Regions from separate parts of the Homo sapiens genome. Here regions 2 and 3 are each linked to region 1. The links come from fine-mapping of genetic effects on gene expression. A gene starts in region 1. Each other region holds a variant in brackets. All regions are shown on one strand. Distances are between the middles of the regions.

Region 1 (8,265 bases):
ATACAATGTTACATTGATTCCTTCCTTCCTTCCCATAATTTACCCAGCCTGCAACTGTGGCATAAGTTTTTTGTTCATACTGGATTTACTAAATGTAAGGCATACCCTATTTTATGTAACAGAACGTTATAATCAAGCAACAACTATATCTTATGTCCTTACTATGAAGAGGGCCGATTTACAGGATGTTGAAGAACAGCCTCGCTCTGCTGGGAGTCAGAGAATGTGAAAAGGTGTCAGGCAAAGGCCTTGCTCCTCCAGGAATCTGCCCTCTGGGTGGGGAGACAAACGGACAGACGATTACCAATACCAGGTAGGAGCAGGGGGCTCAGCCAGCCCATACAGAGGGAGAGCAGAAGGCGGCCACTCAGAGAATGTGCCCTCCATACCCATGCAGGTGCCCTTCACACTGGACGAGTCACACTCCCACTCACATTCCATGCTGCTAACCCTCTGAAGCAGGTGAGATTTATCCCCATTTTACAGGTGAGGCCAGTGAGGCTCAGAGTCCCCATTTTACAGGTGAGGGCAGTGAGGCTCAGAGAGGTGAGGCAACTTGTCCGAGGTCATGCAGGGAGTGATGTGAGGACAGGAACCCAGGTCTGCCTGATACTTGGTAGCTGGAACTGGTTCCTCTTCCAGCAGCACCTTGAAGGCTGGGCAATATATGGATGGGAGGAAAAGAGGAGGAAATGCAAAGGGCCAGGGTGAGGACACACAGTGCCAGGGCTGGGTGGCCAGGGGAGGGGGGACAAGATCATGCCAGACACCACGTTGTGACATAAAGTTGGGGTCAGCGTGCAGAGGGCCTTCACCTGCAAGGCATCTTGGAAGGCACTGCCACTGACGGCTGCTGAGACAGGGTCCCCTGTGAGAAGCGTTACCCTCTGTAAGAAGACAGGCACAGCGGCAGGATGGCTGGAAACTGAGGCTGGAGGCCCAACAAGGAAGCTTTCAGGACCGTAACTCAGGGTGAACAGCCAAAGGCCCAAGTAGGGACCACGGCAGTGGGAGAGCAAAGGTCGGAGTGGACACTCGAAGTGCCCAGAAGAACTGAGTGGGCTGAGGCCTAAGGCACCAGAGAGAGGGAAGGAGGGTGCCCCAGGCACCCCGGCTGCATGCCTGGGGGAACCCAGCCGTTCTTTCCACAAGGAGGAGGCAAGAGGCAGTGCCCACTTGGGGTAGGGGGTGGTTGGTTGGGTCTAGGGAGTGGCGGGACACCCAGGCAGCCAGTCTAAGGCTGAGGAGACTACAGAGCAAAGACTCCACCAGGCCTGGGGTGGGGGTGAAAACGGTGAGCCATCACTGGAGAGGGCGAAGGGGATGAACTGAGGAACAGGCAGGACCAAGGGTGGGCTTTCTGAGAACCAAACAGCTGAGACCTTAAAAAGCAACAGCAACGAGCCCAACAGCACTGGACTGAGCGTCCAGGGGCCTGGGACCCAGCTGTGGAGCCTTGGATGAGGCATCCAGCCTCTCTGAGCCTCAGTTTCTGTTGGGTCATGAATGCCTCCTTATAAGGCTGTCTGTAAGGAGCGATCAGATGCTTGCAGGGCTGTAGTAGAGATCAAATGAAGTAATTGTTCTGAGAGGCATCTGGAATGCTGCAGAACCCCATACACACATAAGGGATTAGTACTATGCAGAAGCACCAAGAGATGCATCCTTCCCACACACGCTTGGCGCTGCCCACCCTCGCCAGCCACACAAAGGCCAGCTTCCGCCTCGCTGCTTCTCTTGCCTTCTGAGCAGTCTCTCCCCCAACCCAGGGCCGGTCCCCCTGTCCTCCCTTCCATCTCTGGATGGCTGAGAACCACCTCAGAAGCAGCTGAGCTCCTCTCTCCTGGATGCCCTGACTCCCTGCAGCTGGGACTTTCTCCTAGAGTCTCTGCCTCTCTCCCGGTACTAAAGTTCCCTCTCCATCCTAAGGGAAAACCAAAGTGGAAATCAGACCACGAAGCCGACCCAGGCTCTCGGAAGAATTTTCATTGCTGGGGAAGACAGCAGCCACCGATCAAGATGCCCAGGTAGGGGGATGGGAAAAACACAGAAAACCAAGATCCCCTCTCAACCTCCCCTCCCGAGCATCCACCTCTTCCCCACCCGGAGGGACCAGTGCTGCCTCTGGGTTTCAGGTGGCAGGTCCAGAGGAGGACAGAGGGGTGGAGCTGGTGAGGCAGGCGGGAGGCTGGTGGGCAAGCCCGGGCCACAAGGAATGAACAAAATATGGAAAATTAAACAAACCCAGACACTGTAATGTGTGCATATTAGATTAACTCTCCGAAGGGTCGTGACCTTGAGGAACACATCTGGCCAGTGAGAAAAATAATAAACCTGATTAATGATGAAGCCTGAGCTGCAGCTTCAGCAAATAAAGCCAGCATGATGACGCCCAGTGGAATTCCAGGGGCTGCCATCCCTGGTGGGACCGGAACACAGTGGACCTCGACAAGCCCCTCGCCCCTGACCACGCGAGCACAGACAGTCAGGGAGTCAGGCAGGACCGGATTTGTCTCTCAGATGCCCACTACCAACCCAGGCGGCCTCTCTCCCCGGAGATACCACGCCCGCAGTTTCCCGGTGCTCCTAGAAGTGTCACTACCAACCAGGTGACCCATAGGGAGTGAAAGTGAAGGTAGTTCTTTGTTCCTGGCAGGGCTCAGTCCTCCTGACCAGCCCTCAGACCTCTTGGCCTGGTCTTGACAGCTGCCCACTGCCTGGCAAAAGGGCCCAGCTGTGCTCAGAGCTCCCCTCCTCTTCCCAGACAACCCAGACCCTTGGGAGACATGCCCAGGAGAGCCACTGGAGGGAGGCAGGGAGGTGGCACCGCGTGGCATCACCAGACAACAGCACCAAGAGGAAGATGGCAGCATCAAGTACAGATGCCAAGAGCCACGCAGCCCAAGGTCCAGCCCGGGAGTGGCTCGGCCCGCATTGCCCCACCACTGCCAGGCAGACGGGCCAGAGGCGCCCGGGGCCCAGCCCCCTCGGCCGCCTCCTCCACCACCCCAAGGCCCTCAGCCAACTCTCCCCAGGCTCCAACTCCTCCCCTCACTTTGCTCAGCTCAAGGGAGCCAGGGAAAGAGACACAGGTGCTCTCAGTGCCTTGAACCCCCTGTCCCAGCTGTCGCCTGCACGCCCTCCACCCCAGCCAGGTCGGAGCGCACAGCTCTGCCAGTCCTCACTGAAGAGAATCTAAATCAGCTCCCCTCCCCCTCCGCCCCAGCCCCCTCCCCCATCACGCGCCCATTGCAGGTCTCTAGAGTTTCTCCCTCACTTCCCACTCGGATGAACTAGGGTGGGATGGGTGGGAGCCCCATTCTCCCCGGGAAAGAGGATCATTTCTGATAGGACGCTGGTTCCCCCAAGCAAGGCGGTGTGCAGGGTGGGGGGGTGTGGTGGTGGCCCGAGTCCAGTGCAGGGGCAGGGGGCAGTCGAGGCAGATGGCAGTGAGGAAAGGGGGAGGGGGCTTGGTGGGATGCCAGGCTGAGCCGGGATGGGGGGCTGCAGCCGGGGAACAGAGGCGCTGGGAGAAGCGGAGGGTGACGAGGTGTAGGGGAGACGCGCCAGGCTGGGAAGGGGCTGTCATCCCTGCAGGGGACAGAGGCAGGGCTGGGAGTTGCACGGGGAGGGGGAGGACCAGAGCGGGAGGACCGCGAGCCCGGGGAAGGGATGCGGAGGGAGGGAGACGGACCGGGGTGAAGACTGGAGGAACTACGGGAGCAGAGCGGTGGGGGGTTCGGCGGCGAATCTGGAGACGCAGGGACCGAAGTGCCAGGGACCGGGCTGGCGGGAGGCGGGAGCGGGGAGGAGGGCGCGGGGGCGGGGGCCGGGGCAGGGGTGCGGGGCCGCGGCCCCCGAGGGCAGGAGCGGCGGAGACGTCAGAAGTCGGGGTGCGGGAAGGGCCAGCGCGGAGGGGACTCGGGGGCGCGGGGGCAGCGCAGGGAGCGGGCCGGGGGCGCCGCGGGGGGCCGCTGCCCTTACCTGGTCGGCTCCGCACTCCGGGGGCTGAGCCGGGGGCCGGGCGCTGCCGGGCCGGCCGCGGGGCTGCTGTTGGCCGTTTTTCCTCTTCCGCAGCAGCCGTGGCGGCTCCAGCCCGATCCGCCCGCAGCTGAAGGCAGTCTGTGTCCGGCTGCGAGCGAGCCCGGCGCGGGGAGCGCGGGAGGAGCGCAGCGAGGCGCGGGGCGCCGCCCGGCGGGCAGCTGGGGAACTGCTGCGGCCCCGCGCACGGCCGGCCGGGGGGGCGCCCCTTCGGGGCCGGGCCGGAGCCCCGCGGGCAGCTGCACGCGCCCCCCAGCGCCCCTCGGAGCGTCGCCCGGGAGCCCAGGCGCGGGGGCGGCGGGGGCGGCGGGAACGGCGGGGGCTGCTGCGGGCAGGGCGGGCGCGGGTCCGCGCGGCCGGGGGCAAACTTGCGGCTGCCCGGGGGCCCGGGGCCGAGCGAGAGGCGCCCGGCTGGGGAGCGGCGCCCGGCAGAGGCTAGGGGCGCGCGGCCAAGCGGGCTCTGCGAGGTACGGACCTCAGGTGGGGAACCCGGCGCAGCCCGCACACTCCACCGCCCTGCGCAAAGGGGCAGCCCGCCCCGGCCCCGAGGAGTTATTAGCCCGGCGGCTTCAGCGAGCAAGGGGCGCCCCCTGGTGGCATTCGGGAAACAGCGCGGGGGACGAGCGTGCCCCGTTAGAAGAGACTGCGGCCTCAGTGGTGCGGAAGATGGAGAGGTGGAGGTTTCATGGGACGAGACAAGAGCACCTTGTTCAGGAGACTGAAGAGCAACAGCTTGCATGGAGTCATTCCAGAGCACTGTTGTATACATACCAACATCTTGGGAGGATCTCATGTTACGCATGAAGATCCTGAGGCTAGGAGAGGTGAAGGGACCAGGCCAAGAACACACGGGGAGCAAGTGGCAGGACCCAGGAGGCAACCCCGCTTTCTGACGCGCGGTTCATTTCAGTACACCGTGTGGTTCATCCTAATACAACAGAGTTGCCCTTAGGAGGAGGCTGGGTGAAGAGGGAGTCCTGGGGGAATAGGAGGGAGGGCAAGGGACACGTGACCCCCTCAAACCTATTAGCTCCCTCTTATCCAACCCGCAGAGTCTCTGTCTTGGGCAGACCACCAAACTGATCACACCGGCCCTCTCACCTTCAATGGCCTGTATCCCCACACCCAACCACCAGCACTCCCACAATCTCATTAAGCTCTCTGTGAAGGGTTTGTTCACAGACGTCCTTGGTCAGGTCTCACGCATGAGGCATACTATCGGGACTATAGACTGTTCTGGACGTTGCATTCCCCGGGGAGGGCTGGCTGGCTAGCCTGGGCGCGTACTGGGCCTCCTGCTTCAGGAGTCGTGCCTATCCCTCCCCCAGCTCCACACACTGGCTGGATGAATGCCATATGCGAACAGGGCTCCATTCCTCCAGCCAGACATTATTTAGCACCTACTGTTTGCCAAGACTATACCGCTTACACAAGTGTGATTCCCAATAATCAACTTTGCAAGGTAGGTGTTGAGGTGACACTAGTCCCATTTTACAGAGGATGTTAAACCTGTTAAGGTTTAAGAGCACCTGTAAGCCAGTGACACAAAACTAATTTCTAATTCCAACTCTATTCCCCCACTCTGGAACCCCCTCTCTTGTGCAAAATGGACGGAACAGCAGCATAAGCCTAGCAGAAAGTGTACGGGGCTGGGAGGAGGGAGAGGCATCCCTGTGATCCCAGCAAGCGATTTCACTTCCCTGGACTTCAGTTCCCATAACTCTAAAAGTGAGGGAAGCAGACTAGATGATCTCTCAAGCCGCGCAAACTCTGAAATGCCAAGCATGGATCCCTGGCCCCTTTCACGGGAAGAATGCAAGATCAGCGAGACCAGAGAGGCTTATTAAGTGTTTGGAAAGAAAAATACTATATAAGTGAAATGCTTCATCATATTCTTTTGCCTGGTGATCTCATCCTATTAACCAGGGAAGCGGGGAGGAGCTTTTGGCAGGTCAGAGAGATTGCTGATGGCTCTGGAGATAGTCTTGGCTGTGGCCTCCTGAGGGCCCTGGTTTCTCCCCTTCTTGCAAGAATGGTTCTGACTTTCTTTTCCTTTCTTAAGGCCTCTGCCCCTAGAAGCAGGGAGTCCCTACCAGTCACAGGGTGGACAACAATGTCAGCGAAGTCTGCCGGTACAGAAGTCTGCTGTTAGCCTCAGCCTGGTTGCCCCCACCCACTCTCCTGTCTCCCCTTGCTGCAAGATGTTGAGTTCTTTGGGATACTTACTACTTGCTCTCCACCTTTTTTACTACTGAAAAAATTCAATTCCAGGCAAGCTGACTTCTCAAGCTCAGCTCCAGGGGTGGGAAGGTCAGTCCAGATCTTTTTTGGAAGCCACAGGGGGAGAATGTCAGAGGGCCACGAGGCTGGCCCCGCTGATCTACTCTGAGGCTGCTGCCTTGAATGAAAAAACAGAAGGGTTGGGAAATGGGGCTCCCACCTCTAGAACCTCTCATCTGAAACATCCCTCACAGCCAGCTGCTATGCTGTGCAGGACGGATAGGATTCATTGTGCTTGGGCGCCATGGTGGTCGGAGCGCACAGGAAGGAGTTTGTTCTCTTGGATTTATCTTTAATTTCTTCCATCTATCTGCCTCTGGTATATCCACTAAGAAGAATATTTGATCTTAAATGTACCTGCCATGTCTTTTCCGAAGGTCCCTTTGAAGGTTCATCACACATTCATAATGATCCCTCTGCATAAATGGGGCCAGCTGAGGCACACGGTGAGCAGGTGACTTGTTGTCACCTTGCTGAGTGGCACATATCATATCATGTCACCATGTCTTAGAAACTATTGCAGCGGCCCTCTAGCTCATCTCCCTGCCTTTAAATTGGCTCCCTCCAATATGTCTACAAATGGCTGCCAGAGTGATGTCTCTAAAACAAGCTTCACCACTTTACACCCTTGCTGAAAACCCCTTCATGACCTCATATTGAGTCCAAAACTTTTTTTTTTTTAAGACGGAGTCACTCCTCTGTCACCAGGCTGGAGTGGAGTACAGTGGCGGAATCTCGGCTCACTGCAACCTCTGCCTCCCGGGTTCAAGCGATTCTCCTGCCTCAGCCTCCTGAGTATCTGGGACTACAGGCACCCGCCACCACGCCCGGCTAACCTTTGTATTTTTAGTAGAGATGGGGTTTCACCATGTTGGCCAGGCTGGTCTCCAACTCTTGACCTCGTGATCTGCCCGCCTCGGCCTCCCAAAGTGCTGGGATTACAGGCGTGCACCACCGCACCCAGCCTCGAGTCCAAAACTTCTTAGCACAGCATACAAGTTCCCTGCTTACTTCCCCACCTCACCCATCATCCATTTCTGTCCATCTCACCTTCAGTCAGTACCAAGCAGCACTGAGTTCTCTGCTCATCCCATTTCATACCTCTGTGCCTTTAACACACTGAATTCTGCCCAGAGTCCCCACCCTACCTCCCACATACACACTGATACACAAGTTCCTATTAACCGCTCAGAATTCTGTTTGGGAACCTCTCCTACTAGAAGTTTATCATACCTGGCTATCTAGTCCCTTCCCAACAGAAGTAATTACTCCCTTCTCGGGATCTCTCTTGTGCTTGTTAGAGTTTATGGTCACTTACTTGTTTCACGTCTGCTCTCACTAATAGACTGTGAGCTTGTTCTCCTGGATTTATATTTTAGCTTCTCCCTTCTTTGTATTTGCCTCAGGTATATCCGCAAATCAGATATTTGATCTTAAATTTACCTACCATTTCTTTTCCAAAGGTCCCTTGAAGGTTCATCTCAAGTTCATAATTAGACTATAGGCTTTTTAAAAAATCTCTGGCCGGGCACAGTGGCTCACACCTGTAATCTCAGCACTTTGGGAGGCCGAGGCGGGTGGATCACCTGAGGTCAGAGTTTGAGACCAGCCTGGCCAACATGGAGAAACCCTGTCTCTACTAAAAATACAAACTTATCCGGGCGTGGTGGCATGGGACCTGTAGTCCCAGCTACTCAGGAGGCCGAGGCAGGAGAATCACTTGAACTGGGGAGGCAGAGGTTGCTGAGATCGTGCCATTGCACTCCAGCCTGGGCAACAAGAATGAAACTCCAGCTCAAAAAAAAAAAAAAAAAAATCTATTAACCACACAGTGCTTGGCATAGGAGATTCTTAGTAAATGTGTTGAATGGATAAACCAATAGAGAGAAGGGGTTAATGAGGTCTACAGTTCTGGCAAATCGGATTTGCTCCTGTCATTTGTCC
Region 2 (8,000 bases), 450 kb before region 1:
AGGGTCCCTATCTGATACCTATCAAGTCTGGAATCAGTGAAGCCAGTTCGTCTTAAGCTGGTGTTCCTCAAACTTCAGTCATTCATGTATGAATCTTGCTCTGTCTAAATACTACCTATACGATTTAAATCACTTTAAAAATGTAAATGTATGCATTAACCCCATTCTATGCAGTAATATAAATAAAACAACAGGTTTGATTCACTGCATATATATACTTTTTTTCTAATGGCCATTAATATAAACATGAAACTATGGCAACTAAAAAACAGTTCCACCACATCAGACCTAAAATCATCTCAAGTACCACCACTCTGGCACCGGCTGATATTAACGCAAAGTTCTTTTGGGACCTCATTCCAGGAGTATTTTGTGGAGCAGCAGATAAATGAGCCCCATGTGGACCTCCAAACTATATGTTCAAAAGAGATAATGAGATGCGGAGAGATGTTTTTATCTCCAGCAGAGAAACATCTCAACTTTATTCTGCCCAATTCCCGATGCTGGTGAGCAACCAAATGGGGTTTACTTGGAAGAAGGTCATGCTGGAGCCTCCGTGAATTGTGCCATATTCAATGGCGGTCTGGTCAGCCAGGTCATCCACTGACTCAATGGGCACATCCATGCGCTGCACGGTCAGGAAGGCTGCCAGGTTGGCCGTGTAGGATGAGATGATGATCAGCGTGAATGCCCACCTATGTAGGAAAAGACGAGGAAGTCATCATTGCCCGGGCACTCCCTGGAGTCTTGGCCCCTGACCCCAGTCCTGCTGTGACATGGGAGAGACCAGGCATCTTTCTTATGAAAGAGCTTTCAGCTTAGTGGGGGAAGAGAAAGGAGGCAGGGCATATGATGTCAACAGAAATGAATCGCGTTTGTGAGCACTGCCTGGAAGAAGACAGTTGATTTGTTTTTCTTATTTCCTAAAGGAGATGATTATTGGGTTATTATTCAAAAGAGGTGTAGTCCATGCACATGAGACAGTTTTGGAGACTGTGAGAAATGAGCTAGTGAATGAGCTGCGGGTGCCAGCTCCAAGGGCTCTGTTCAGAGCTAGAGCAGGAGGGCTTCCTCACCTCCTCGTGCTGAAGCCAACCTTCAAATGTGCATCGCCAGGCAGTGAGCAGCTACCACGAGCTACATCCACTATCTCACTTAATCCCTAGAGCTCACGGAAGCAAAATTCTTATCCCAATTTTACAGGTGAGGAAATTGAGGCTCAGAGAAGTGAAGCAACCTGCCAAGTAACACAGTGATACATTCTTTGTTTTTTTTTGAGACGGAGTCTTGCTCTGTTGCCAGGCTGGAGTGCAGTGGCACAATCTCTGCTCTCTGCAACCTCCACCTCGTGGATTCAAGTGATTCTCCTGCCTCGGCCTCCTGAGTAGCTGAAACTATAGGCATGCACCACCATGCCCAGCAAATTTTTGTATTCTTAGTAGAGACGGGGTTTCACTGTGTTGGCCAGGATGGTCTCTATCTCTTGACCTTGTGATCCACCCGCCTTGGCCTCCCAAAGTGCTGGGATTACAGGCGTGAGCCACCACACCTGGCCGATAAATTCTTTTTTTTTTGGAGACAGGGTCTTGCTCTGTCATCCAGGCTGGAATGCAGTGGCTTAATCAGGGCTCAATGCAACCTAGAACTCCCGGGCTCAAGTGGTCTTCCTGCCTCAGCCTCCCCAGGTACTGGGATTATAGGTGTGAGCCCCTGTGCCAGCTGATAAATTTGTATTTTAAAACCAGTTCTGTAAATTGTAACAACAGAACATCTTTAATAAAGACTACCTGGCGAAAAGCACTTTTGAACTGCTGAAAGGCTGGAATTAGAAAATACTCTTACAATGGTCATGCTATTTCAAATTAGAAGATTGTTTTACTGAGTAGACAGAACTCATTTGAAATTAGAATAATTTTGCAGCTCAGGCAGCATATATGCTAAGTCCATTAAAAACTGTGTGTTCATTTTAGTAGGTTAAACAAGCCTTCTCCCATCTGGTCAACAGTATGGATCTACATCCCAATCCCAAGGGGCTCAAAGATAGATCTAAGCACAGTTTGGGATGGAGAATCACAAATTCTGAATCAGTGGAGCCTGAGTTCATGGGGCTTTATCCATCATAGAGACACTGACGATGAATGCATAGTGATTAACACACAGAACTTGGCAACTTGCCACTGCTGTGTAGATTTTCAAGAGCAGCAGGTCCCATTGCCCCTTTTGCCATTGTGACCAAGAACACTTGCTGGCTGCCTCCCCAGGAGTGAAGCAACAGGGGCATCCTCTGACTCAGTGGGCATGTCTACATGGCAGACCACCATGAGCGAGCTGGGTTTTGGTTCTGGCTGTGTTCCACTGTGAGAATGTGGGGGAAAACCACTCGCCTTCTCTGAGCTCATTTACTTGTCTAATAAATATATGGGGATAATCATGCCTGCTCTGCCTATTGCTGGAGAGTTGTGAGATAAAATGAAGTAATATGTCATGAGTGATCAGCAATCTGTAAAGGACTAGAGGGATGTGAGATATAGAGAAATGTATAGAGAGACCATCAGACTGAATATGGGATGAAAATCACCTGGCTGCCTCCTTCTGCCTTCCCTATCTGTGACCTGTAAGTAGCAGGTATCCCTCCATGCCCAAGGTCTGCTCTCCCTGCTCCTGCCTCAGCTCTTCTGCCCTATTGGAAGGTGCTCTCATGACCATCCCTAAACAGAGACCTGGGGTGGGCAGTCCCCAGGAGGAAGCCAGCACTCTGCAGCTGCTTAGCTGTGGTGGTGTGTGCTGGGGGTTAATGAGCCCTAGGTGTGGACATGACTTCAGAGTTGGCTACACTCTGGCTACACACCAGGTGGCTATTTAGGCCATTGGTCACAAGGAAACTGGTCAGAGGGCACAAGCGGCTCAGTGCAAACCCATCGGCTCTGCTGAGAAAGGGAATGATGCCCGCTTCCGGAGGGCTCAGTGGAGCCTCGCTCCTGTGTCAAAGGGCATTTTCAGTTGTCAAACTGGCATTCTCTCCAGCGACATGGTGTTTTCTATCACGTGCTCTGGGTGAGGAGGTCGAGGTAGGCCACGATGGCCCTGTCTTCTGACCTCCCACTCCTCCATGGAACGGACCAAACCGAGGCCCTGATTTAAGAACTAGGAACTGTTAGTGTGCTGGGAGAGAAGCGCAGTGACCACCTGGAGTCGGGGCTGGCACAGGCCTGTCACGGCGGCTTGCATTCGCGCTGAGCCCCTTCTCACACAGCTCTGGAACAGTGACCAAGCCACCTGGGGCCAGCCATTTAAAGCAGCGCTGAGTCCTCCCCTCAGGGCAGGGCAACCTGCAGGATGGCTGGGTCCTGGAGGAGGGATTTCCTGGGGTAAGGGTAGAGCTGACAAGCGGATAAAGTGGGCAATGGGGTTCTAGCTGCATCCATCTGTGGGAGCAGGCACTCTCCAGAAGGAAAAGCCCCAGGGAGAAGGAGATCGACATCCCCCGATGCTCCTCTCCCAGGGCTTCTGCCCAGGTTCCCGGATGTTGTGGGTGGGACTTCCGTGACTCTCCTTGCTGAGATCGTCCATCCCTCTTCCTGGAGACCTGAGCTCCTGTTCTCCATGGTGATCCATTCAGTGACTTCTCCAAACTATCTGGTAACAGGCAAGCATCTCGCCCAGGTTTAAATCGTGCTACATTTGTTGTTTATCAGGGATAATGGAAACCCCAGACAGGAAGGCATGGCTATCTCAGCTGCGTTTTCACCTTCCTAACAGCCCAGTGGCTCCTCCAGTAATTCTGTCCAGACCACCCACTCTGGGCACCAGTACTCAAGGGTGGAAACATCACCTTTCCTTTTCCTTTGGCTAAACAGGCTGAGAAGGAAGGGAGAGAACCAAGGTCGTAAGTCCTGTATGCTATGACAGCCAAACCCACAGCAGATTTTTAAGAGAGGATCAAAAAGTTGTGTTCTGCAAACTTGCCTCTCTAGGCTA[C/T]ACACACACACACACACACACACACACACACACATTTGTTTTGTCTTTCCTTTGCCCCCATAATGGTCTAATAACAATGATCAGTCCATATGTTTATGTAGCACTTTCAAGTTTTCAAAGAGCTTTCCCACACATTGAATCATTTGCTCAACTCTGAACGACAAGAGTTGCGTTTTCCCACACCTGCTGAGGTGAACAGGCCAGCAAGCCCCCAGAGCCAGAGGCAGAGACACAAAGCCTCAGAAGGCTGGTAGAGGGGATGTGATGTAGCAGCCAGGCTGGCTTCCTCCTGCAGGGACTTCCTGCCAGCAGGCTTATACTTGCATAAATCTGCATATGCCTTCTCAAACCTCAGGTCATTTTCAGGTCAGGAAGTTACCATTGCTTTGCTGAAATTCATCAAGGCTGTTTTGTCACCTCCTCTCCCTTCCTCCCTTGGCTCCCCTCTGCATCCAGACCCCAGAGAGTAAGGGGAAGGGGACCAGATGGCACAGAGCAGGCCCCATCCATTGCCCCAAGCTTCTGAGCTGGCAGAAAGCACTCGGCTTCCTGCGTGGGTCTGCTGTAAGAGGCAGAGGCTCTGGGGCTCTAGAAGCTAGAGCCGGCTTATCAGAGGGCCCCTTTTGTGTCCCCACCCCACCTGGCCTGGTTCACCTCTGCCTGGGGCCTTACCAGACGCCACTGACACAGCGGGTGGATAAGGCGCGAGGGGCGATGGTGGAGCCTTGCTGCATGAACCCCCCGACCGGAAACCAGAGGCTGTTGCCCAGGGAGTACTGGTTCACCAGGAGGTTGCACCGGCCCTGGGCACATGGGTGTGGGCTGTACCACTCGTAGGGCGTCAACCTGTGGGAGAAAAGGAACATACACTAGTGCCACAGAGGCGGGGTGTGAAGGGACACAGGCAGGCTCTCCTGGCTGGTCTCACCTCTGAGACCGGCCTGTGGCCTTGGGCAAGCCACTTCCCTTTGCTGGACTTGGAGTTTCGCAACCAAAAAAAAAATAAAATAAAATAAGTGGGTTGAACTGGGTTGATGGTTCTCAAACTTTTTTTTAATCAAAGAGACATTTTTACCCCCAATAAATTCTGATGTGGAACTCCAAAATACAGAATAGAGGATGGCCAGGTGCGGTGGCTCATGCCTGTAATCCCAGCACTTTGGGAGGCCGAGGCGGGTGGATTGCTTGAGTCCAGGGATTCGAGACCAGCCTGGGCAACACAGCGAAAACCCGTCTCTACTAAAAAATACAAAAAAATTAGCCAGGTATGGTGGTGTGTGCCTGTAATCCTAGCTACTCAAGAGGATGAGGTGGGAGAATCACTTGAGTCCGGGAGGTAAAGGCTGCAGTGAGCCAAGATCCCACCACTGTACTCCAGCCTGGACAAACAGAGTGAGACCCTGTCTCAAAAAAAAAAAAAAAGATTAAGTGGAGCCCCTGAGGCTAGGAGTGTCAAGAGGTGGACAGCCTGGGAAGCCGCTTGTTCTGTCACTGCCAGTGACAGGGTGATGAGAGAGATATTAGTGTCCCTTAGAACCACGGTTTGAAGACCCTCAGCCTAGAGCAGTGGCCCTCCAGCCTTAGCCTACCTCAGAACCACCAAGCCGGTGTGCTGACACAGATGGCTGGGCCCAGCCTCAATGCTTCTGCACTGGTAAGTCTGGGGTGAGGCCTAAGAATTCCCAAGTTTCCAGATGATGCTGGTGCCACCGGGCCAGTGTCCATACTGAGAGCCACTGGCCTCGATGGTGTCTAAAGCCAGGCTCTCCCTGTCTGTGTTTCAGACCTCCCCAGAGCCTTTCAAAAAAAAAAAAAGAATGCTGCTGCTTGAGTTCCACTCCCAAAGATTCTGGTTTCATTGGCTCAGGTGGGGCCTGGACATCAGTGTTTGTTTAAAGCTCCCCAGTGAGTGTAATGCACGCATGGGGCTGAGAAGGGCTGCTCTAAGCTCTGTGCCTTGGGGTGAGGTGGGGACACTCCCCTGCTTTCCCTCTCAGCCTCACCACTGGCGTCTCTCTGAATGGCCCCTCTGATGCCCAGAATGCCTGCTCTTCCCCTGCCCGCCAGGGAGATGCTTGCAGCCCCGGCCCATCTTGTACGCAAAGCCTTCCAGCTCTGACGAGAGAAACTGTATGCACAGGTGTGCACCCCCAGGAGGGCGGGGTGCTGTGTGCTCGGTGTTATCTTCACACTGCTCTTTCCCGTCCTGCACTCGGCCTGATGTGCACTTAGTGTTCCCACTGTCGCTGCCTCCCGTTTCCATCCGCGCCTCTCCTTCCTGAGTACAACACAAACGTCTCAGCATTGGTCCTTTGACCTGTGAGATGTGCTCTGTCCCTCTGTGTGGGTCCCGAGGAGCTGGCTGGCACTCTGGTGCCCCACTTTGTTGGCTCCCAAGCCTACGGACCATTGGTGGGATCTGCAGAACTTCAAAGATACAGATTCTCAGGCCCTTCCCCTAGAGATTCTGAGCTCATGGGACCTGGGAATTCAAATGTCTAAAAGCTCCCTACAGGACTCTGAAGATCAGCTCTCTTGGGAATGGCTACCTAAGAGCTGTTGTTTTCAGACATTTTTTTTTCCCTGTAAAATCTTACCCGAAGTACAATATATAAGAAATAAAAGTAGAGCTGGTCTGGATGAGGAGGAGTTGGGGACCCAGGGCTCTGGCTGCCCAGCCTCTTGTCATTCCACCCCCAAAGGCTCTGGTTGCTCCCAGGAGCCTTTGCAGTCCATAGAACCATGTTTGAAAATCACTACCTTAAGACAGAATACCCTAGACTCCAGTATTGTTTGTGTGTGTGTGTGTGTGTGTGTGTGTGTGTGTGTGTGTGTGTGTGTGTAGTGAGAGAGAGAGGCCGTATGGTTAGCCCTTTAGCACATTTTCTGTTAACCTTTCTGTGATGCTAGATGCTGGAGGGGGTGTGTTTGGATGTGGAGGGGAGGGAGGAGGGGCAGCGTAACACCCCAGGGCTGGTTGAAAGCTCTAGGCTGCTGTGGGTATGCTGAAGCAGGCTTGTATGTATCTGCTCTCCAAACCCCAAGACTTTTCAGGGCCCTTGAGGTGACCTGAGTGTTGTGGCATGCCACACGCAAGGGCTCACATCCAAGGGGCAAGTGTGAATTACAGAGCAGTGGCACCAGGCTCACGGAGACAGCCTCCTAACATGGCAGCAGTGTGGCAAAGTGGAGAGGGGAGGTGTCAGACAGCGTGCTAGCTCCCCATCTCGCAGGCCGTCACTGACAGCAGATACTCAACAGTGGCCATGCCTACAGGCCCGAGAGGGGTTGGTGGTGCCCAAGCAGCAAACTCTGCCACGTTTGAAAATGACCAGGTTGTCAGCAAGGCCTGTCTTTTTTTGGCTGCATCTTGTGGGCCCCAAAGACCTTCCTGATCTTGGGGACCTTGGTCTCCACTAGAAGAGGTATGTGCAGACAGGTTGATGCAACCCTTCTCTGGCAGTCTGGGAAGTGCCCTCAGGGGTTAGGTAGCCCGTGGTTCCCTAGGGCTTACCATGCGGCAGCTCCATCCCCAAGTGCCCCCATCAATCCAGTGAATGAACGTGCCCTAGGGGAAGACCCCACCCACCCCACAGAGATGGGATGTGCACTCTAACACTGTCTGCCCTCCCACTGTGGCCTAGAGGCAAAGGTAACAACTGAAGAGACACCTGCAAACCAGAGCCACGGACAGATTCCAGAAGCTCCTCCTGAGTAGTTCTCTGCTCCCACATAACAGCCCTTTGTGAGCCTCCACTGCAGTAAGTGGAGGGTTAGCAGCACTAGGGACCTGAGTGAGTGGCCTGGGAGCCACCAGGGCTCATCCCACTTCTGGAGGGTTAAGCTGGCTCTCCTGCAGCTCAGGCTGGCCCAACAGCCTTGGCCTGGAGCGAAACTACCTTTGCTGTGCACAGTCTTGGGAGGCCACAGCCTCAGGCTGCTCCTCAGGTTTTTCCAAAGGGCCAGGGCAGCCCCTGGTTTCCTGGGGATAGGGCAGGGCTTATTCTCCCCCCTCCCTGGTC
Region 3 (8,265 bases), 86 kb before region 1:
TTATACTTCCCCCACACGTTGAGCCTACTTATTCCTTATTTATTTTGCTCATCTCAGCCCCTTTACTTCTGGGAGTGATTCCAACTTAAAAAAAAAAAAAAAAAAACCACACACACAACAACAACAGAACCAAAAAAAAACCAGTCAATTATGAGACAAGCTGCTTGCAAATGAGAAAAAGCCTCCCCTCCTCAATTTTGCGCCCCCCCACACCCCGCCTTAAACAGAGGGACCTGATCTTTAAACAAACAGCCACTAATGTGCTATGTGAATTGAATCATCAAGTCACTTGCCCTGTGTAGACCTTCCTGGACAAGGTTCTTTTGGGGTTTGTTTTTGTTTTCGTTTGAGATGGAGTCTCGCTCTGTTGCCCAGGCTGGAGTGCAGTGGCGCAATCTCGGCTCACTGCAACCGCCACCTCCCGAGTTCCAGTGATGCTCCTGCCTCAGCCTCCCCAGTAGCTGGGATTACAGGCGTGCACCACAAAGCCTGGCTAATTTTTGTATTTTTACTAGAGATGAGGTTTCACCATATTGGCCAGGCTGGTCTCAAACTCCTGACCTCAAGTGATCTACCTGCCTCGGCCTCCCAAAGTGCTGGGATTACAGACGTGAGCCACCACACCCAGCCCCTGGACCAAGTTCTTCTTGTCCAAAATGTGGGTGCTGTAATAGTTCTCATGAGTTTTGCTTGTTTGTTTGTGACAAGGTCTCACTCTGTCACCAGGCTAGAGTGCAGTGGCACGATCCGGCTCACTACAGCTTCCATCTCCCCAGGCTCAAGTGATCCTCCCACTCAGCCTCCTGAATAGCTGGAACTACAGGCGCATGCCACCACACCTTTTTGTATTTTTTGTAGGGATGGGATCTCAGTATGTTGCCCAGGCTGGTCTCAAACTCCTGGCCTCAAGTGATTTGCCTGCCTCAGCCTCCCAAAGTGCTAGGATTACAGGCATGAGCCACCATGCCCAGCCTCTCATGAGTTCTTAATCTTTTTGAAGGTCACTGACCTCTTTGAGAATCAGAACAAAGCTACAGATTTACCCCTTCCAATTTCACTTTCCATGCATATTTGTGATGCTGCCTGTAATGCCAGGGACTCCCAGAACCCCTGAAGATCTTCCTGGTGGGGAGAGGGTCCCCAGACCCCTGCCTCTGCACTCCTGGCTAGGATCTCCTCCAGTCCTGACTGTGGGAGGAAAACAAAGACCAGCATCCCTCCTCAGCCCTCTGTTCAAAGAGCAGAACAAAAACCAGGTGGGCTTTGCTGGGAGGCCCAGAGAGCAGGAACCCCATTTCCCTGAGTTAGCCTCAGGCACTGCCTCTGAAAGGCTGCCATTCAGGCAGCCAAAGCTGATTTGACATTTGTTTAATTCGCAGGAAAACTCTAGTTTTCTTTTTTTTTAAGACAGAGGGGGGAAAAACTCCCATAAAACCTCTTACTCTCTTGCCCTAATGGGACCCATAAAGGCTGACAGTGCACCAGGAATCAGCCACGCTGAGAAGCCGGAAGCCTGGTGGGTGGAGGTACCCTCCCGCTGTGGGAGGAGCAGCTTTAAGAGTCTCATTTTTCTGCAGGCCTTAGGGGCTCCCACATTGAAGGTCTCACCTTTCCCTTTCCCCAAACACACCTGAATCAGGGCTGCCAGCACTACTCTCCCTGGAACCTTCCACCCAAGGGCTTCGGCCACCTGCAGAGTGGGCGGATGGCAAGGTCGCTTCTAGAGCTTTTCTGATGCGCCAGGCCCCATGCTAGGTGCTCATGCCAGCATGAGAAAGCGTCAAACCTAAAACCAGCCTCTAATGTTCAAACATACTCTGGCTGCAAGAGACACCAAAAGCCTTTCTTTCACCTTTATGTCACGGGCTCTGGGGCAGGGGTTCCCTTGTGCTGAGTTTGACTTGCTCCTTGCTCGGGTGAGTCACCCAAGAAGGCTGAGCTTGGGGACAAGGCCCAAGGTGTTTGTAGCTCCTACTGCCTTTTCTCTCCCTGCTGAAAGGAGAGTTTCAGGGCAACCTGGAACTGAGGCCCACACCCCAGGAATACCCAAAGCTGGCAGCCTTGAAACTGGTTTTCACAAACCTCTGATCAAAGTACTTTCTGCACTGAAAACGGGGCACTATATCCCTGGAAGCACAAGAGGGAGGCTAGGGGGCTGAGAATACAGTAGCAGAGATGGAGCTGGCAAGACATCTAGAGACTCCATCACTGACTCATTCTTCTGAACCGTTCCTTCCTTCAAAGGGCCTAAAACCCTCTGGTCTTCATCTCCCAGATAACGGCGGAAACTCTGTTAAGTCCAGGTGGAGAAACCAGGGCATGCTGTGAGCCTGAGAAGAGGGCAGGCATGGGGCACCAATGTCCCCTCCTCCATCCCTGGAGCCTCAAGCCCAGAACAGGGACCTTCCCCACCACCAACTCCAAACATGCACTCCAGGTTCATCTGCAGCAGCTGGTCCAGGGAAATATTAATAACAATCATGAAAGGTAATGACTAGTTGTGAGAACAAGGATCAATTCAAAAGGGAAGTTGTGTTTTCACATTCTCTGCGTGTTTAAAAAACAGCAACACACGCATCAAACAAACAAAATGAGGCATCTGTCTGGCACAGCCTCGTGATATCCCGTCCAGATGTGGAAGCTCAGTAAGCCCCCTCTCCACACCCTTAGTTTACAGGACCAGGAGCTGTGAAATGGCCTTTGAAGAGTGGGTGTTACCCTTTGCAGTAACGCAGAATGACCACAAAGCCTTCCTCGTTCCTGCAGGCACACCCCTTCAAATGGGGCTTCTTGGCCCCTCCCATCAAGAGAAGGAGTCCATTATCCATCCCTTGAGTCTGGACTTGGACATATGACTTCCTTTGGCCAACCGGACATTAACAGACATGAAATAACAGAGGATGTAAAAAGTACTTAGGCATCAGGCTTCCCTCTTCTGCAAGATAGACAGGGTCCAAGCCAGCTCAGTTACTTTCAAAGAGGAAGAATGGATATCTACATCTACATGGACATGGAGAATGTGTGAGGAAGAGGTCAGGCCTGGGCGAGCCTCTTGGAAGATAAGAGGCCATGTGGTCCTTGCCACAGCTGATACTGAGGGAGGCCATCCCAGTTCCTGCAGCCCCAGACAACCTGGCCAAGACCAAAGGAGCCATCTAGCCAAACACAGAGCCATCAATAATAGTCAAGTTCATTGTCTTGAGCCACTAAGTTTTGGGGAGATTTGTCATATGGTGGGAGTTAACCACTATACCGTGCCATTCTCTGTCAAGGAAAAGAACTGGTTGGCTCCTCAGGGGGTGGGCAGGTTCCACCACGCAGGCCAGGAAATGTCCCTGGAGCCGATGGAGAAAGACCACAAACTCTGCACTGGAGGTTGAATTCAAACCACCGTTCTGCTACCTGCTATCCAGATGACCTTGGGCAAGACACTAACTCTGTGAGCCTCAGTTTCCTCATCTGCACAAGGGGCACAGCAAGCCGTTTCATAACGCTGCTGTGAGAAAGAAATGAGAGAATGGATGGAAAAAGTCGGATGCACAGCAAGGGCTCAACAGATGCTTGTGTCTCTTTTTTAATCAGTCAAATTCGATGGTCAAGGCATCTTCCACCTTGATTCCAGAAGAGTGGAAAGAACAGAAGGGGCCCAGACCAGCTCCAACTGCGAGGCCAAGGGAGCGCAGGAGGGGAAGTCTGTTGTTAAAACAGCCGCTTGGCTCTGTCGCTGAGGCACTTAGTTTTTAATCTCTCTGAGGAAAGAGACGTTTCATCCAACATTCACCGCATCAGCAACTCTCTAAGTAAAATGCAGAAAACATGACGTCTTTATTCATTCCATCAAGCAGTAATTAGGGCTCGGAACAGGAGTCTTCAACGGCAGGCACTCCCGCTCCTGAAAGTCAGGCAGGTTTCTAATTGGGCTGGAGAACAACTTTGGGGAGATCTCACAGAGGTCGCTAAAAGGGACTCATCCACAGTCACAATTTCCCTTTCGCTTTCAGATGCTTAGAGAAAAATTCGAATGCTGCACTGTATTAGGAAATCAGACAAAGCGGGGGGCTGCACTGAACAGGCAGCACGCATGGCCCACCACCTCAGGACCCCCACGGATCCCTGAATGCAAACACTCTGGCAAAGCGCACGGCTGAGGCAGCCAAGTAAGACTGAGAGGCAATTTGCTTTTTGTTCTTTAAAAAGAATCAGCTAGAGAAATTGCCTTTATGTGACACTGAGACTCTGCTGCCTGCCACGGGGCTCAGCTGGGGGCGCCCGGGGCTCGGTCAGAGAACAGGTCAGATCTTCACCTGTTGGGTAGTCAGCCAAGGAGGGAGAGGAAGGAGAGGGAACTGGCAACTGCCCAGCTCCCACCGTGTGCAGCCCCAAGAGGGGTGCTTTGCATACATGATCTCACTGCATCCTCCCCAGAACCCTCTGCGGGAAACATCATCTCCTCATCATGGTGGGAAGGCACTTGCCCCGTCACCCAGCAGGTAAGGAGCAGAACCAGATTGGAACCCAGGTGGAGAGGGAGCGGCCCCGCAAGGTGAGT[G/TG]GAGCTGCCTCTGGCATCCAGGGGCCCAAGAACAAAGCTACCTGGGGCTGCCCTGGCATGAAGCTGTCATGTTCCCAGCTCTGGGAGCAGCCGTTGACTAAGCCAGGGGTCCTGAGGCCCCCAGTGCTTACATATATAGAAGCCCCAAGTGAGGGGAGAACTGGATGGAACACAAATCTCAGCCAGGCGCGGTGGCTCACACCTGTAATCTCAGCACTTTGGGAGGCCGAGGCGGATGGATCACTTGATGTCAGGAGTTCAAGACTAGCCTGGCCAACATGGTAAAACCCTGTCTCTACTAAAAATACAAAAATTAGCTGGGTGTGGTGGCGGGCACCTGTAATCCCAGCCACTCGGCAGGCTGAGGCAGGAGAATCACTTGAACCCAGGAGGCGGAGGTTGCAGTGAGCCAATATGGCGCCACTGCACTTCAGCCTGGGCGACAAAGTGACACTCTGTCTAAAAAAAAAAACAAAAACAAGTCTAACTGCTGAAGCCCCTTCTCAGACCCTCTGCCCTCATTTTCCCTACACATACTCTCCCTTACTTCTCCAGTGTGGCCCCTTCTCCATATGCTTTATAGAGAGACAGAGGCTTAGGCATAGAGACTTACATATAGACTTCAACGTAGACACATAGACATAAAGGCATAGACATACACACCTAGACACAGACATCCATCCTTCCCCTTTGGAAATAATTTTGCTGGCTTGAACCCCACTCTGTCCTTCTCCAGTCTCTCTCTGAAGCGCTCCCTAACACCCCATCTTCTACTTCCCTGGAAGATTTCATTGTTCCCTCATCGGTGTTCCCACAGCCTCTTTTCCCACACTCATCACGTTGCATTTTTTTTACTGGTTAATAGACCTGTCTCCCTTTCTAGAATGTAAGAATGGAGACAATTTCTTTTTCATCTTTATAACCTCAACACTTCACACAATGTGTGACACACAGTGGGCATTCAAAAATATTAATCAAAGGAACTAATTCAACAAATACTTTTTGAGCACCTACTACAGGCTGCATGCTAGGGATACGGTGACTTAAAAAAGCCATCCCGGTCGGGCACAGTGGCCCGTGCCTGTAATCCCAGCACTCTGGGAGGCCGAGACGGGCGGATTATTGAGGTCAAGAGTTCGAGATCAGCCTGGCCAACATGATGAAACACCGTCTCTACTAAAAATACAAAAATTAGCTGACCGTGGTGGCGCACGCCTGTAATCCCAGCTACTCAGGAGGGTGAGGCACAAGAATCGCTTGAACCCGGGAGGTGGAAGTTGCAGTGAGCTGAGATCACGCCACTGCACTCCAGCCCAGGCAACAGAGCAAGACTCCATCTCGAAAAATAGAAATAATAAATACAAAAGCAATCAGGGGCCTACAGTGCAGACTGGGAGGTGCTCTGCCTGCTGAGAGCAGTGTCCCCAGGGCACATGGTCAGCAGAGGGATGCTTCCAGGAAGAAGTGGAAGCTCAGCTGAGACCTACAGAAGAGTGGGAGGTGTCTGGGTGAAGGAGGAGAGCTGTTCCAGCAAACTGAGATGCATATGCAAAGACTAAAAAGTGACAGAGACTAAAGAACATTCTAGAAACCACCATTCCATGTGGCTAAAGTAGAAACTGTGAGAGGTCATCAAGCAGCAGAGGATAAGGTCAGGAAGATGAGCACCACTCCTCCATTCACGCCCTCAGTCAGTAAACAGGTGGTGAGCACCTTCCCTCTGCCATGCACCTTGTAAGGTGAGCAAAATACATACAGTCTCTGCCTTTATGGAACTTACAGTCTAGAGGGGAAGAAAAAAAGTATACCGAAAAAATAATTTCAAAATGTGCTAGGGGCTGTGGATGAAACTAACAAGAAGCAGACATAAAGAAAATAATACAGCAGAGAAACCTTTATGTGAAAACAATCTGAAACTTAAAGGATGTGTGAAAAGCAGGACGAAGAGTGCTCCAAACAGAGGGAATGGCGTGTGCACATCTCCCGAGGCAGGAGAGGGCACAGCACGACCACGGGCTGCAAGGCCAGGGAGAGTGGAACACAGCGAGCGGGAGGAAAGATACTGGTTAGGATGTGCTCAGCCACATGCAACAGACGGCCTTCCTAAATGTGGCTGGAACCATAAAGGCATTCATTATCCCTTTGAAGAGGAGGATGGCAACTTTGTGGTTGATCCTGAAACTCATCTGTGGCTTTAGAGGCCTGCTCCTTCCATCTGCCTTCCTCGGTATGTGGACAGTGTCTCCCTCGCTGGGGGTGGCTCCTCACCCTCCGACACCCCTAAAGCAGGAAGGACGCATGCAGGCATCTCCTCTTCACGAGTCACTCTCGTATGAGGGCAGCCCATCTTTCCCACAGCCACCAGCAGACATTCTCTTCAGTCCCACCACTTACCCCAATCAGTGGCAATGGAGTCATGGTACGGCTATGAGTGAATTGGATTAACCGTGGCCCAACTGCAGTGAATCACAGGAGGGCACACCTTCCCTGAAAATACCACCACCTCTTTCATGGAAGAAAAGTACCCTATATCTGAACAAAATCAGGCTTCTGCTGACATGGAAGATGGGAGGAAACAGCTGTTAGGAAGGCAACTGATCAAGAAGACAGTGCAAGAGGAGGCTGGAGAATTAGATGGGCCAGATCATACCCTATACGGCATTACAAGGGCCTTATAAGGCATGGCAAAGAGTTACGATTTTATTTATTTATTTATTATTTATTTATTTAGACAGGGTTGTGCTCTGCTGCCCAGGCTGAAGTGCAACGGTGCAAACACAGCTCACTGCAGCCTCAACCTCCCAGGCTCAGGCGATCCTCCCACCTCAGCCTCCTGAGTAGCTGGGACAACAGGTAAATGCCACTGGCTAATTTTTGTATATATATTTTTTAAGACACGGGGTCTCACCATGTTGCCCAAGCTGGTCTTCAACTCCTAGGTTCAAGCAATCTGCCGGCCTTGGCCTCCCAAAATACTGGGATTACAGGCATGAGCCACTGCGCCCAGCAGGATTTTATTCTAAGGGTAATGAATAGCTACTGAAAGGTTTGAAGCACAAGAGTAGCATGAAACAATTTAAATGATGTATTTGAAATGCATAGTTTTTAAAATGCTGTGCTGTGTGAAGAACAAGGAACAAGAGAAGTGGAAGGAGAAAAACCAATTAGGAGGCTACTGTCTTAGGTCAGAGGAGAGATGGTGGTGGCCTGGACTGAAGGGTGGCAGGGCAAGTGGAGAGAGAGAAGGGTATAAATTTGAGGCACCTGCTGGAGGTAAATTGGCAGGACTTGGTGGGGTATGGGATGTGGAGAGTGAGAGAACGGAGAGATCAGGAATGACTCCCATTCTTTTGGTCTTGTAAACTGGTGGACAATTGTGCCATTTACTGAGATGGGGAAAGAGGTAGAAACAGATTTGGGAAGAGGAATAAAGTGGTTTTCCATGTTTAGGATATATGGAGGATATTCAAATGAAAAAGTCAAGTAGATAGATAGATGGAACTGCTAGAACAGCACTCAGGAGAGAAAGTTGGAGGTCATCACTGTATAGATGGTATTGAAAGTGTGGCAATAGGTGAGTTCACTCAGAGAGAATATACAGTTAGAGAAGTGGGGGGCAAGGCTTGGGACATCCGACATTTAGACAGGAGTAAAGGGGGAGTCAACAGAAAGGGATACGAGAAAGACAGACCTGAGATGGGGGAAGCAGGAGGAAT

Which allele goes with the higher level. Alleles are on the strand shown, and positions count from the first base shown. SD is a standard deviation of normalised expression in the study named. Not every link is listed here.
For the expression in thyroid of the gene that starts at base 4,124 in region 1, TG is the low allele of the variant in region 3 and G is the other (small effect, 0.30 SD a copy in GTEx).

Evidence for each region.
Region 2: its variant is fine-mapped to the expression of GRIK4 in whole blood (INTERVAL, PIP 0.97).
Region 3: its variant is fine-mapped to the expression of GRIK4 in thyroid (GTEx, PIP above 0.99).

The regions. Positions count from the first base shown.
Region 1 is chr11:120,507,607-120,515,871 of GRCh38, reverse strand. GRIK4 (glutamate ionotropic receptor kainate type subunit 4) reads right to left here and starts at 4,124. Exons shown (of 21, transcript NM_014619.5): 1 at 3,985-4,124. RefSeq lists silencers at 4,054-4,253, 4,434-4,513.
Region 2 is chr11:120,953,604-120,961,603 of GRCh38, reverse strand. It overlaps GRIK4 (glutamate ionotropic receptor kainate type subunit 4), which reads right to left. Exons shown (of 21, transcript NM_014619.5): 16 at 4,651-4,824; 17 at 530-695. It overlaps LOC101929208 (a long non-coding RNA gene), which reads left to right and starts at 3,565. Exons shown (of 3, transcript NR_133004.1): 1 at 3,565-3,646. RefSeq lists a silencer at 2,858-3,079 and an enhancer at 5,604-6,104. The variant C/T (reference allele first, on the strand shown) is at 3,979.
Region 3 is chr11:120,593,489-120,601,753 of GRCh38, reverse strand. The region is part of intron 1 of GRIK4 (glutamate ionotropic receptor kainate type subunit 4); the gene reads right to left. Among named protein-coding and RNA genes, the nearest start is that of GRIK4, 86 kb to the right of the region's middle. The variant G/TG (reference allele first, on the strand shown) is at 4,550.